2 linked regions of the Homo sapiens genome follow. The protein of the gene in region 1 interacts with the protein of each later gene in a biochemical or structural test. Each region holds a gene or a part of one and is shown on either strand. Other genes may lie near its edges.

What was found. Proteins that work in one complex are often made in the same cells at the same time.
Region 2: the proteins of ACOT13 (region 1) and PCTP form a complex in vitro, tested with the Homo sapiens proteins (one study listed by BioGRID).

What each region holds. Positions count from the first base shown.
Region 1 is NC_000006.12:24,669,065-24,677,832, reverse strand, and holds part of ACOT13 (acyl-coenzyme A thioesterase 13), read right to left. Parts: intron 8,717-8,768; exon of another isoform or gene 7,895-8,716; intron 7,185-7,894; exon of another isoform or gene 1-7,184. UniProt on the Homo sapiens protein: Catalyzes the hydrolysis of acyl-CoAs into free fatty acids and coenzyme A (CoASH), regulating their respective intracellular levels. Has acyl-CoA thioesterase activity towards medium (C12) and long-chain (C18) fatty acyl-CoA substrates.
Region 2 is NC_000017.11:55,754,051-55,761,050, reverse strand, and holds part of PCTP (phosphatidylcholine transfer protein), read right to left. Parts: exon of another isoform or gene 6,963-7,000; intron 1-6,962. UniProt on the Homo sapiens protein: Catalyzes the transfer of phosphatidylcholine between membranes. Binds a single lipid molecule.

The sequences.
Region 1 (8,768 bases):
AAAACCCTAAAGCAACTAAGAGGGTTCCTTGGCATAACAAGCTTCTGCCGAATATGGATTCCCAGGTACAGCGAAATAGTCAGGCCATTATACACACTAAGGAAACTCAGAAAGCCAATACCCATTTAGTAAGATGGACACCTGAAGCAGAAGTGGCTTTTCAGGCCCTAAAGAAGGCCCTAACCCAAGCCCCAGTGGTAAGCTTGCCAATGGGGCAAGACTTTTCTTTATATGTCGCAAAAGAAACAGGAATAGCTCTAGGAGTCCTTATACAGGTCCGAGGGACCAGCTTGCAACCTGTGGCATACCTGAGTAAGGAAATTGATGTACTGGCAAAGGGTTGGCCTCATTGTTTACGGGTAGTGGCAACAGTAGCAGTCTTAGTATCTGAAGCAGTTAAAGTAATACAGGGAAGAGATCTTACTGTGTGAACATCTCATGATGTGAATGGCATACTCACTGCTAAAGGAGACTTGTGGCTGTCAGACAACCGTTTACTTAAATATCAGGCTCTATTACTTGATGGGCCAGTGGTGTGACTGCGCACTTGTGCAACTCTTAACACAGCCACATTTCTTCCAGACAATGAAGAAAAGATAGAACATAAATGCCAACATGTGATTGCTCAAACCTAATGCTGCTCAAGGGGACCTTTTAGGGGTTCCCTTGACTGATCCCAACCTCAACTTGTATACTGATGGAAGTTCCTTTGCAGAAAAAGGACTTTGAAAAGCGGGGTATGCAGTGGTCAGTGATAATGGAATACTTGAAACTAATCCCCTCACTCCAGGAACTAGTGCTCAGCATGCAGAACTAATAGCCCTCACTCGGGCACTAGAATTAGGAGAAGGGAAAAGGGTAAATATATATACAGACTCTAAGTACGCTTACCTAGTCCTCCATGCCCATGCAGCAATATGGAGAGAGGGGAATTCCTAACTTCCGAGGGAACACCTATCAAACATCAGGAAGCCATTAGGAGATTACTATTGGCTGTACAGAAACCTAAAGAGGTGGCAGTCTTACACTGCCAGAGTCACCAGAAAGGAAAGGGAAACAGAAAGGAACTGCCAAGCGGATATTGAAGCCAAAAGAGCGGCAAGGCAGGACCCTCTATTAGAAATGCTTATAGAAGGACCCCCAGTCCTTCTATAATTGTCCCTGTTTGTAGATGACATGATTGTATATTTAGAAAACCCCATCATCTCAGCCCAAAATCTCCTTAAGCGGATAAGCAACTTCAGCAAAGTCTCAGGATACAAAATCAATGTGCAAAAATCACAAGCATTCCTATACACCAATAACAGACAAACAGCCAAATCATGAGTGAACTCCCATTCACAATTGCTTCAAAGAGAATAAAATACCTAGGAATCCAACTTACAAGGGATGTGAAGGACCTCTTCAAGGAGAACTACAAACCACTGCTCAACGAAATAAAAGAGGACACAAACAAATGGAAGAACATTCCATGCTCATGGATAGGAAGAATCAATATCGTGAAAATGGCCATACTGCCCAAGGTAATTTATAGATTCAATGCCATCCCCATCAAGCTACCAATGACTTTCTTCACAGAATTGGAAAAAACTACTTTAAAGTTCATATGGAACCAAAAAAGAGCCTGCATTGCCAAGACAATCCTAAGCCAAAAGAACAAAGCTGGAGAGGCATCACGCTACCTGACTTCAAACTATACTACAAGGCTACAGTAACCAAAACAGCATGGTACTGGTACCAAAACAGAGATATAGACCAATGGAACAGAACAGAGCCCTCAGAAATAATACCACACATCTACAACCATCTCATCTTTGACAAACCTGACAAAAACAAGAAATGGGGAAAGGATTCCCTTTTAATAAATGGTGCTGGGAAAACAGGTTAGCCATATGTAGAAAGCTGAAACTGGATCCCTTCCTTACACCTTACACAAAACTTAATTCAAGATGGATTAAAGACTTAAATGTTAGGCTTAAAACCATAAAAACCCTAGAAGAAAACCTAGACAATACCATTCAGGGCATAGGCAAAGACTTCATGTCTAAAACACCAAAAGCAATGGCAACAAAAGCCAAAATTGACAAATGGGAGCTAATTAAACTAAAGAGCTTCTGCACAGCAAAAGAAACTACCATTAGAGTGAACAGGCAACCTACAGGATGGGAGAAAATTTTTACAATCTACCCAACTGACAAAGGGCTAATATCCAGAATCTACAAAGAACTTAAACAAATTTACAAGAAAAAATCAAACAACCCCATCGAAAAGTGGGCAAAGGATATGAACAGACACTTCTCAAAATAAGACATTTATGCAGCCAACAGATACATGAAAAAATGCTCTTCATCACTGGCCATCAGAGAAATGCAAATCAAAACCACAATGAGATACCATCTCACACCAGTTAGAATGGTGATCATTAAAAAGTCAGGAAACAACAGGTGCTGGACAGGATGTGGAGAAATAGGAACACTTTTACACTGTTGGTGGGACTGTAAACTAGTTCAACCATTGTAGAAGACACTGGCAATTCCTCAAGGATCTACACCTAGAAATACCATTTGACCCAGCCATCCCATTACTGGGTATATACCCAAAGGATTATAAATCATGCTGCTGTAAAGACACATGCACATGTATGTTTACTGCAGCACTATTCACCATAGCAAAGACTTGGAACCAACACAAATGTCCATGAATGATAGACTGGAATAAGAAAATGTGGCACATATATACCATGGAATACTATGCAGCCATAAAAAAGGATGAGTTCATGTCCTTTGTAGGGACACGGATGAAGCTGGAAACCATCATTCTCAGCAAACTATTTCAAGGAAAGAAAACCAAACACCACATGTTCTCACTCATAGATGGGAACTGAACAATGAGAACACTTGGACACAGGGTGGGGAACATCACACACCGGGGCCTGTCGTGGGGTGGGGGGAGGGGGGAGGGATAGCATTAGGAGATATACCTAATGTAAATGATGAGTTAATGGGTGCAGCACACCAACATGGCACATGTATACATATGTAACAAACCTGCACGTTGCACACATGTACCCTAGAACTTAAAGTATAATAAGAAAATAAAAAAACAGTTGAACTCTAGGGCTGGGTGCACTGACTCATGCCTGTAATCCCAGCATTTTGGGAGGCCAAGGCAGTCAGATCACTTGAGGTCAGGAGTTTGAGACTAGCTTGGCCAACATGGTGAAACCCTGTCTCTACTAAATATACAAAAAATGAAAATTAGCCAGGCGTGGTGGCAGGCGCCTGTAATCCCACCTACTCAGGAGGCTGACGCAGGAGAATAACTTGAACACAGGAAGCAGACGCTGCACTCAGCTGAAATCACGCAACTGCACTCCAGCCTGGGTGACAGAATGAGACTCTATCTCAAAAAAACAAAAAAACAAACAAAACCCCCCAAAAACGGTGAACAAGTTTTGTCTAATTCAAAGCTTATTTAGGCCAGGGGCAGCGGCTCATGCCTGCAATCCCAGCACTTTGGGAGGCCGTGGCATGCAGATCACTTGAAGTCAGTTCAAGACCAGCTTGATCAACATGGTGAAACCCTGTCCCTACTATAAATATAAAATTAGTTGGGCATTGTGGTGCACGTGTAATCCCAGCGACTCGAGAGGCTGAGGCAGGAGAATCACTTGAACCCAGGAGGTGGAGGTTGCAGTGAGCCAAGATCGGGCCATTGCCTTCCAGCCTGGGTGCCAGAGCAAGACTCTGTCTCAGATAAAAAACAAACAAACAAAAAAAACCCCACAAAACTTATTTAAAGGTTATGTATACAACAAGGTAAAGGAATCAGGAAATAAGAGAGATGTTGTAAAGGAAGTTATAAAACAAATTTTTTTTGTATGTGGTAAGAAAGCTTAGAAATAATTTTACATGAGAAAGAATACTGTATGGTAAATTTAGTCCTAAGATAAAAGTTCAAGCATGTCATGAATGGTCTGTGTATGTCACAATAAGAGGATTTGTTTTAAAAAAATTGTATATGATCATGTTTACAATTAAAAGGAAATTATAATGCTCTTTCTAGAGACTGGGCTTCATGTTAAAAAAGACACATATACACGAAATTATTGGTTAGAAAAATAAACTTTTCTTAAGGGGTTAACTTACTCTTAATAAATTATAAGAGAATTTGCCTACGAATGGTGGCTTCTGCCTGTAATCCCAGCACTTTGGGAGGCCAAGACAGGTGGATCACTTGAGGTCAGGAGTTGTAGACTAGCCCGGCCAACGTAGTGACACCTCGTCTCTAACAAAAATACAAAAATTAGCCAGGCCTGGTGGCATGTGCCTGTAGTCCCAGCTACTTGGCAGGCTGAGGCACAAGAATTGCTTGAACCCAAGAGGCAGAGGCTGCAGTGAGCCAAGATTGCACCAGTGCACTCCAAACTGGGCAACAGTGCGAGACTCTATTTCAAAAAAAAAATTATAAGAGAATTTAATTTTTTTTTAAAACTGAAAGTTCAATTTTTATTGCATCTTGCCATTTTTTTTCAGCTTTCTCTCCCCTTTAAAAAGGCACACTGTCTTAAAGGTCTAAAGGAAGTGTTTTCTTCCAACATCATGTTCTGTGCATTGCAGAAGGTCTTTTCTTTTGCTTTTTGGTAACTGACCTAACAGAGTTTACATTTTGTTGAAATAATTCCTATGTTTAGGAAAAAACTGAGATTAAAAAAAGATTTTTTAATTAACATGATTACAACTGGGTATTTTCCTGTATGTGCTTTTAAAGTCCTTGTGACCTTAGGTTACAGGGCTTTGACTCCTGGGTCTAAAAAGGACACCAAGTCCTACTAAATCTTAAACACTGACAGCAATTGAAGCTGTCATCTTCAGGCCCCGTAGAAGACGCCAATCAAAATAAACTGCATTCCTGAGATACACGGCCAGAAATTAAAGGCATTCAACTCCTCAAGGCCCAGAGACTATCGAAGAAGAGGTGGGCAGGTAAGACTGTAAGGTCCAAATTTGAAAGATAAAATAAGTTCAGTTTCTCTATAAATTAATGATTAACGTCAAAGGCACAATGATGCAAGATCAGCTTATGGGCCCCTGTAATCAGATTAACAAGGTTTTCTTGACACATTAACTGACTCCTTAATAAAGGTTATAAAGGCTTATGGAAGTTATATCTTTTGTTTTCTTTTCTTTTTTTGAGATGGAGTCTCGCCCTGTCACCCAGGCTGGAACTGCAGTGGCTCAATCTCAGCTCACTGTAACCTCCGCCTCCTGGCTTCAAGCGATTCTCCTGCCTCAGCCTCCCGAGTAGCTGGGACTACAGACGCGTGCCACCACACTCAGCTAATTTTTGTATTTTTAGTAGAGAAGGGGTTTCACCATGTTGGCCAGGATGGTCTTGATCTCCTGACCTCCTGATCTGCCCACCTCGGCCTCCCAAAGTGCTGGGATTATAGGCGTGAGCCACCACGCCCAGTTAGAAATTATATCTTATGGTCAAGTTTAAAATTTTATAGATTGTTTATAAAATTTTGAAAACAAATTTAATTAGCTTCATGCTGTTTTTATTAGGGCTTATTGTTTGGAAAGTTAAGTCCCCTCTCTCAAAGAATGAAGGTTTTCACCTTTTTATGAAATCCTTGAGTTATCACTTTGGTTAAATGAATGATTTATTTTATAATGACCTGTGATCCTATTTTTGTGATATCAGGTGTTTTAAACATTTGATATTTGACAAACTTTCCAAAATCAAATTATAAATTATGTCTTTTTCTGACCTAATTAGTCCTTTAAGATATTAGATTCCCTGAAGTCCAAAAATGGCATAATTTGGCTTATTTGGTACAAAAATTACACAGGAAGCATTGTCAAATATGCAACAGTGTTTGGCTTTCTTTGAGATGTATTTGTATAAATATGTTATTGGTATGTGTTCCAAAATTATGGGAAATTCCTGTAATTCTGATATGACCTAGTGTACATTATCAGTAATAATCATAATTGTTACGTTAAAATTATTGTGTGCTACAGAGGAGAGGTATCAAATTTCCTTGTCAATTGTGTCTTTGCCTATGGCTGCCCTAAAACTTTTAGTCATCCACGCACAATTGTTGTGTTGTTTTGGTCCTCTTTAGAAAGTGTTTTTTTTTGTTGTTGCTGTTGTTGTTTTTTGAGATTCATTATTTATTCTTGATAATGTTTTCTTTGTTAAATTTGTTTTTTTAAATTATACTTTAAGTTCTAGGGTACATGTGCACAACGTGCAGTTTTGTTACATATGTATACATGTGCCATGTTGGTTTGCTGCACCCATTAATTCGTCATTTACATTAGGTATTTCTCCTAGTGCTATCCCTCCCCCATCCCCCCACCCCACGACAGGCCCCAGTGTGTGATGTTCCCTGCCCTGTGTCCAAATGTTCTCATTGTTCAATTCCCAACTATGAGTGAGAACATGCGGTATTTGGTTTTCTGTCCTTGTGATAGTTTGCTGAGAATGATGGTTTCCAGCTTCATCCATGTCCCTACAAAGGACATGAACTCATCCTTTTTTATGGCTGCATAGTATTCCATCGTGTATATGTGTCATTTTTTCTTAATCCAGTCTATCATTGATGGACATTTGGGTTGGTTCCAAGTCTTTGCTATGGTGAATAGTGCTGCAATAAACATACATGTGCATGTGTCTTTATCGTAGCATGATTTATAATCCTTTGGGTATATACCCAGTAATGGGATGGCTGGGTCAAATGGTATTTCTAGTTCTAGATCCTTGAGGAATCACCACAGTGTCTTCCACAATGGTTGACCTAGTTTACACTCCCACCAACAGTGTAAAAACGTAACTATTCCTCCACATCCTCTCCAGCACCTGTTGTTTCCTCTTGAATGCAGGTCTCCATTAACTTTGGAGATTGTTACATGAGAATAGAGGAAAAACTTTCAGAACTCATGGAGAGCTAAAATGCTCATGAATATCAAGCAGAATAGGAATTAACTAAGGGGACTGAACTAATCTTTTTGACTTTTTGCTTAAACATTGCTGATCTTTTGCTTTGTTTTTCAGAGCCTTGAAACTTTTCTTTTGAGCTATTGACAGCTTTTAACAATTTAGTATACTCCAATCAACAAAATTTGGAGCATATTTGTTTCTCTCTACCTGATTTCTCCAGAATTTGTAAACTATTTGTGAGTATTCTTAACTTGTGCCAATACAGTTATTTGCATAAGTGCAGTAAGAATCTGTTTTCATTTGTAACAGGACACAGTTGGAGAAACTGATTATTTTACCAAGGCTTTGAGTGGAAAGGTGTACTTTCCTTTAAGTAATCAAACCTGACTTATGGAGCCAATAAAAGCCCTTGGGAAAACTGGCCTCACACTTTACAAAGTCCCTGTACAGGGTTTCTGATATGTGCTAAGTAAAGAATGTCATTTTCTGACAGGTCCAGGAGCCCCTGGTTTATCATGGAACATCAAAAAGAGGAAATTCACCCTACTCATAGGTATTTGATGGTACAAATCCATGGCTGAGCTTGGCTTTAAAAAGAATCTTATCTGAGATTCCTTCTATGGAACAAAGTTCCTTCAAAGCCAATTTTAAAAAGCCTATGTGAAAAATAATTATTCTTGCTACACTTTATATAAATAATCTGGTCAAATATAATAAAGCAAATCAGTCCTACCATGATTTGTCTTTAGTAAAAATGGAAAACTGGAGAGAGAAAAATTGTTTCAAAACTTACAGTCCACTTGTTGTTAGATACTAGTCTTGCCTAATTTTTTCAATTTTTATTATTTTCTACAGTTTAGGCTGAATTCTAATTTTTCCTGGCTACAAGTCTCCAAAATAATATTTTTAATTTTTTTCTTTTCTTTTCCTTTTTTTTCCTAATTAGGAGTCACTGAAAACAGCTGTGCTTTTGTAAAGCCCTGCAAACTGAAGCTAGACAACTTAAACTTCAGAAGAAAATAACAGCAACCTATTTACACGCATAAGCCACTTTCATACCTGCCTACTGATGTATGGACTTCAGAATAACGTGGCCTATGTATATTTTCCAGGATTGTTCTTTTGTTTGTTGTTTTTCACCCTTCCTCCCCCTATTTTCTCTTCACAAGACATGGGAGTTCACAGCCTTCTAAAAATTAGCTTTCCTAATAACTTGGGACTTACCTGTCTAGGAATAAACCATCCTAGCATGAGCGATCAGATGAAATCTGGGACCAAAGACTCATTTTTCTTCTAAAATGCTTTCTCCAAAAAAAAATTTTTTTTAAAAAAAAGAAAAGGGGGCAAATGTAAAGGAAAATATCTTGGGCCCCCAAATCACTAAGTTAAAAGGAAAATTCAAGCTAGGAACTACTTAAGACAAACTTGCCTCCCATTCTATTCAAAGTCATCCCTCTGCTCATTGAGATAAATGTGTATCTGACTGCCTCCTTAGGAAAGGTAAATCAGAAACTCAAAAGAATGCAACCATTTGTCTCCCACCTACCCGTGACCTGGAAGCCCCCTTCCCGCTTCAAGTTGTCCCGCCTTTCCGAACCCAACCAGTGTTCATTTTACATATATTGATTGATGTCTTATATGTCCCTAAAACGCATAAAACCAAGCTGTGCTCTGACCACCTTGGGCACATGTTGTCAGGACCTCCTGAGGCTGTGTCACTGCGTGCGCATCCTCAACCTTGGCAAAATAAACTTTCTAAATTAACTGATACCTGTCTCAAATTTTTGGGGTTCACAAGGTTTAGTTATAAATGCTTCTTA
Region 2 (7,000 bases), on another chromosome or scaffold:
TACAATGTCTCCTTATTTAGCTGTATTTTCTCTGCATGTCATTCCCAAATCATTGTTCCAGACCACAAACTAATGATAAAGATAAAGAAGACCCATCACACAGGATCTTAGAGCAGGAAGGGGTCTTAGCTTAGCTGTGTAATGTGAGTGACTTGCCAAGAGTCAGCTGATGACGCTGTTGGTGGCAAAGCCTGGATGGGAACCCTTTCCTTCCCTAAGCCAGTACTCCTGCTCCAGGCCACCCAGAACGGACCTCCCACTGAGATGCTCCCCTGAGTCCCTAAGCCTGGTGTGTTTGCCCAACAGGCCTCCAAAGGGCCAGAAGAAGTATTTTTTTTTAGATGCTGCTTCTGAAGGGTTCAGAAAGGAACCAGGAGAAAGGCAGGTATAGAGAAAGATGAATATTATCACTTTCAACAGATGAGGTACTGTGCCAAGTTTTTCCATATACTATTCCAAAGTGCTGTCTCATAAATCAGAAAAGCTAGTCAGAAAAGACAGTGTGGTGGTAATAGCATGGGCTCAGATTCACCGTCTGGGTAGAATCTAACCTCTTCCACTACTAACCTGCAAAATGGGTCTAATAAGTTTCTACTTCATGGAATGATTATGAGGATTAAACTAGATAATCCATCTAAAGTTCTATTATGTGGTGCACATAATAAGTACTTAGTAAATATTAGATATCATTCCCATTAATAAGGTAGGTTACTATTTCATTAACAAGGTAGGTACGATAATCTCCTTTTTCCAGATTAAAGAACTGGGATTCAGAACTGTAATGTACATTTTCAGGAAAACCAATATCTACAGTGAACCTGCTCTAAGCCAGGCTGGGCTTAATCATGAATACTTGCAATAATCCTGTGATGTAAGCATCATTAACTCCACTTTATAAGTGAAGAAATGGAGGCTGGAGACAGGGGAATGCATGGCCAGGAAATCTGTTACTGTTATCACTAATTTTTGAGATGCTATCGTGCTGGCTAACTTGTCGAAACATTAAACTGGTATATTTCTCAGCAATGGTGATTCAAATGCGTGAAAAAAAACATCTGTGCAATTTGTTTTCAATTATATTTACAAGGTTAAAGTATTCTGAGAAATATTATTGTCAACAGTACACTTATTTGTCCCAAACAGAATAAACTCTGAAAGAGATGCTATGCATTTACATATGAGATGTGTCAAAATGTCGTAATGTTTGCAAATGACACTTGCAATCCCCACACAGGAGTAATCTCCTGTAGATGTCCCATCACCCATCCAGGCCTGGAGAAAGGCACCACTCATTACCTCCAATTTATGGTGTTTATCTGAATTTACACCACTAACTACAAGGTGGTCTTGATAAATCACATATTCTCAAATCCTGTGAATGCACTCATGAGTGTGCATTGAGTTCTCTTTGCCTCTCACAGAAGCGCTCATTTCCATTCCTCAGAGGGACAGGAAACACCCCCAATCTATTTATCTAAAAGCTGTCCAAGTCCATCCACTTTGGGGCAAGTAATAGACTCAGATGGTATGAAAAATAAGTATTTTTCATCAAAGTAAAGCAGTTCTAATGGCAGAAGTCAAAGCTGCAGCTGCTGCTGGGAAGTATGTGCCAAGACTCTACAAAGACAGATAGTTGGCTAAATCTGATTTAATATTTAAGACCTCTCTAAGAAAATGTGATAGGTCTAATCCTTCAGGGTTGCACACAGCTAGGTAAAACAATACTCATAGCTGATGTTTACTGAGTATTAACTGAACAGCAGGCACTGATCCAAGTGCTTTTACATGGATTATCCCACTTAATCCAAATAATGATACGAGGTATGGACCATCAGTAAACCCACTTTTCAAACAGGAAAACTGAGGCTTAAAGATGTTCTGCAAAATGTCCAGAAAAGGCACATGTATAGAGACAAGAACCTCTATTCAGCATTGCCCCAGATTCACCTGCTGGTTCACTCCAGATGTTGGTATGGTATTATGTCCAAGCATTCAGAATGCCTATACCCTTCCCTACAAGTCATCTCTCTTCTCAAGGGATTCCCAAGGCTGAATGAAATATCAGTGTTTTGTTTTATTAATAGCCACCTCCTGTAATCGCCATACAGCAATCTGGTGAAAGACAGAGTGAGAGCATAAAGCTTGGCTTATACCTGGAGACAGAAGGGAGGCATCTTACTCCTTCCTCTCCCCTCCTTCCACCAAATCTGAACCTTGAGACCAGCATTCTCGCATGGCCTCATACCCACAGGCTTATCCTAAGACAGATGCGAGGAGAGGGAAAAACTGAGACTCTAACTTATCTACCCAGTTGCACACTCAAGGGAGACAGAAAAGAAGGAGCTGGCCTTGGTCTATGGTGGGAAGTAGAATGCCACAGACGGGTGTCCTGGAGACATGGTGGCTCTGCCCACAAGTAAATTTCAGCTCCATAAGTGACCAGGGCTCAAGAATGATTCTATCAATCACGCTGGTAATCAGAAGGATGACAGAAAGGAGCAGAACAGTTTTACAATCCTGAAGTAATGGGGCTCATGATGCTAATTGGCTTATTATCCCATCTGGGGAAATAGGAGTAGGGATTTCACATCTATAGAGTGAAATCTCTTCTCCTGTGAGATGGATCTGTGTTTCTCTCTAAAGGCCAAACTTTCTCTCAGCCCAGCCTGCCCAAATGCAGTTTTTCCAGTCATGCTGGTCTTTGAGAATTTTAGTAGGTCAAGAGCACAGGGAAGAACAGTCCCTGGGAAAGTACTGTCTGCTCCTCACCAAACTCTTTGATTAGAAGCCCTATTCAAGGACAAAAACACAATTTAGGCTGCCCCTTCTCACAGTGCCAGATATTTAGATTTAAAAACTTAATAAGTCAAGCCATCAGCCAGAGCTTTTCAGTCCAACATTTATTTTCTCTAAATTGAAGCTGTGAGCCTCTGCGCACTGGTTCCACACTCTATGGGCAGTGGTTAATGGCATGGTAACGAAGCCTGAAGTTCCTGCAAGGGCCTGACTTGCAGATCACTGGAAGAGCTTTTCTAAGTGACCCATGGCCCTTCTCTCAGGGAAACTTCTCAGCACTGCTCAGGGGACCACATTTACTCCCAAGTGACCACTAACTTAAACATCAGGGAGAGGGAGCCCTAAAATGGATGTTGCTTTTGTCTTAAGACATTTTTTGGTCTCACTTTCATCTTTCAATTTCCATTGCATCTCATCTCTAGGGTATTCTCCTGCCTCTGACTTTAGCTCTCAATGTCAGAACTGCCTCAGCACCATGCTAGATGCTCCCCATCCACCAGTGGTTCTCAAAGTGTGATTCCCGGACCAGTAGCCTCAGCATCATTCAGCAGCTGGTTAGAAATATAATGCATAAAAAAGAAGAGTATCTATCTATCTATCTATACACATACATACATGAACATAGAACTTATTCATTGATGAGAACGTGGATCACATTCATTGATGAGTGTGATTAGTATATATACACACACACATATACATGTGTATATATTCATATATACTATATGTGTGTGTATATATATACACATATAGTATTTTCCACATATATATATACATACGTGTGTGTGTGTGTGTGTGTGTGTGTGTCTCAGTTTCCTCATTTGCAAAACCAGGATACTACTTACCTTTCAGAGTTGTTGAGACGATTGAATGAAATGATACATGGCAGAATGGTTCTCAAACTTCAGTGTGTATTAGAATCTCAAACTTGAGCATGCATTGAGTGTGCATTAGAATATATATGCACACACACACATGCTTGTGTATATACACATATATGTGTATATATGTATACATGTATATATGTGTATATATATACATATATACACACACAAGCATGTGTGTGTATATATATTCTAATGCACACTCAATGCATGCTTTTGTGTGTGTACATATATATATCCAAATGCACACTCAATGCATGCTCAAATTTGAGATTCCAATACACACTCAAGTTTGAGAACAATTCTGCCATGTTATCATTTCGTTCAATCCTCTCAACAACCCTGAAAGGTAAGTATTATCCAGGTTTTGCAAATGAGGAAACTGAGATTTCAAAATGAAAAAGTAACTGATCAATATCACCTGGCCAGTAAGTAGGGCCTGGCCCCTGGCCACTCTTCAATCTCATATCCACTCCAGTCCTGTGGGCCTCCTGGCTCCTCCTGGAAAATGAGGCAAGCTCAGCCTGGCTGAGGGACTAGAACCCAGTGTTCCCTCTATCTCAGTGGCTTAAAAGCCAGCATGTTCATATGAATCTCCTGAGAAGCCTAAATATATATATACATATATACACACACACACACACACACACACACATTCATAATACACACACACACACGTGTATAAAACGGTTTTATTATGAAAGATTTCAAACATACACGAAAGTAGAGAGGACAAAATAATTAACCCCTATGTGAAGGGGGAGCCTCTCAAAAGGACCACCAAAGCCCCACCCTAGACCAGTTAAACCTGAATCCCTAAGGTAGGGCTTGGTATGGTTTGTAAAGCTGTCTCGAGTGATTCCAATGTGCTTGAACTTTGAGAAACACTCTCAGATTCATTTCTCCTCCAGATATTTGCATTATTCAAATCGGCCAAATGTTACTTCCACAGAGGGCCTTTCTGGACTCCCTTATCTGAAACACATCACATCACCCCTGGCTACCCTGCCATGCCATCTCTCTATCCTTTTATCTCGCTTTATTTTCTTTATAACATTTTCTTTAAAGTACTTTATAGCATTTTCCACTGGACATTTCATCATATACTATGGGCTTATTCTCATCAATGAATATGATCCATGTTCAAGAAGCTCATTCATTGAAGCAGCAGCACCATGTTCCTTCTTCACCACTTATCCCCAGGGTCTATGAAGACAGTAGCACATGGGAGGCAGTTGATGAATATCTCCCAAATGCTTAAATGAATGATAGAGGAACAGAGCTGAGACTCTCACACAGGACTATCTGACTCCAAAATCCATGCTTTTCCCACAATACCCATGGCAGCCCTGGTCTAGTTTTGCTTTAGCCTCCGGAAACAGAATGTAGTTCTTGTATGGAAGCAAGTTGTGTATTTGGTACTGAGTTTATCATAGTAGACTGTTCACATTAGTTATTAGTTATGAGGTCTCATGTGGCTCGCTCAACAACTCTGGATCTTATTTCCATTTGTAAAGTAAGCCCATTTTTGCCTATCTTCCACATCTCTTTAGAAGGATAAGTGAAAACTTATATGACAGCATTTATAATTTGCAGCATCAAATAAAGTTATTATCATTACAACATGGAGAAGAAATAAGAGAGGAAGGAAATAGAGTAGGCAAAGAAAGAAGAAGTAGAGGAAAAAGATAATGGTGTTGGACAGCATGGCTTAGAAGAAACTTTCCAGTCCAGAATTTTGTGATTTAAGAGAAAAATAGAAAACAAAAAAAAATTATCAAAAGCTGTACATCAAAATTGCCCACTTGTCCAAGAACAGGATTCAGAATAATTTGTGTCTACTAAAAAAAAGGACACAATTCTATTATTTTTATTTCAAAATACAATTTGCTACATTGAAATCTCTTTCAAGAGCCTCTACTCTTCTTTCAGTCTTTTAAAAACATGTAACAGTAACTTTGTTACAGCATCATTTAAATCATGGTCACAATTTTCTTTTTCTCTATTCTTGTTTCAAATCTTGCTCAAGAGCCCCAAGAAGCCACATAGCTTTGGCCTTAGGTTGGCCACCTCTATGCTGAGTGTGGGAAGCAAAGTGAAGGGTCGTCACAACCAGCTCGTACCACACAGTGGCAAGCATGCTATGCACAATCGGGTCCTTAAAGGACCATCAGTCCAACCGACGCCCATAACTTCATAACTAAGCCACTAGAATCTTCAGGGGAGCAACTCTATCTCAGATCCATTTCCATAGATGGAAATCTGACCCATTGCAGATCCTCAATAAAGGCTCAATGAAGTATATAAACAAATTGTCTCTGGTCTCCTTTCTGAATACAGTACTTGTGATATTATGAGCTATATATACAAAATGTATACATATACATACATATGTATATGTGTGTATATAAATATATAATTTACATATGTGTGTATACATATGTGTGGCGGCGTGTGTGTATTGGACATAGAGTATACACACACACCCACATACATACTCCAGTACTGTACATCCAATACACACACGCGCGCACACAGGTTTCTATCCACTGTTCCTGGTTCATAACTCTCATAGCCCTCGTTACAGTCTTTTGTACGTTGGTGCACTTTAGGCCTCAGGAGTTGAGCCAAGAGTTGCAAGAACTTCATTCCAGGGAGGGTCCTGCCTCATACCCTGGAAGAAGGAATGTCGCATGGAGAGGCCAGAAGAATCTGGACAGGCCTTCTTGGGTTTCCCCAATCAGTCTATTAATATGAGATCAGACCCTTTCTGTCCAGTCATATTTCAACACTGTTGTCCATGCTTCAATCATGCCTAGCCAATGAAGTTTCCATAAAGGACCCAAGAGGAGGGGGTTCAGAGAGTTTCTGGATAGCTGAACTCATAGAGGTTCCTGGAGGGTGATGCATCCAAGGAGGGCATGGAAGTTCCAAGATCCTTCCCCCATATCTCATCTTATGCATCTGTATACTTTGTAGTATCCTTTATAATAAACCAGTAAATGAAAGCAAGTGTTTCCCTGAGTTCTGTCAGCCTCTCTAGTAAATTAATTGAATCCAAGGAGGGGGTCATGGGATCCCCTATTTACAGCCAGTTGGTCAGAAGCACAGGTAAAACAACCTGGGGCTTTCAACTGGCATTACAAGTGGCAGGGAAGAGGGGGTTAATCTTGTGGGACTGGGACCTCAACCTACGGGATCTGACACTATTTCCAGGTAGGTAGTGTCAACACTGAACAGGAGGACACCTAGCTGACGTCCACCGCAAAACTGACTGCTTACTTGGTGTTTGGAGAGAAATCCTCAGACATTTGGTCACA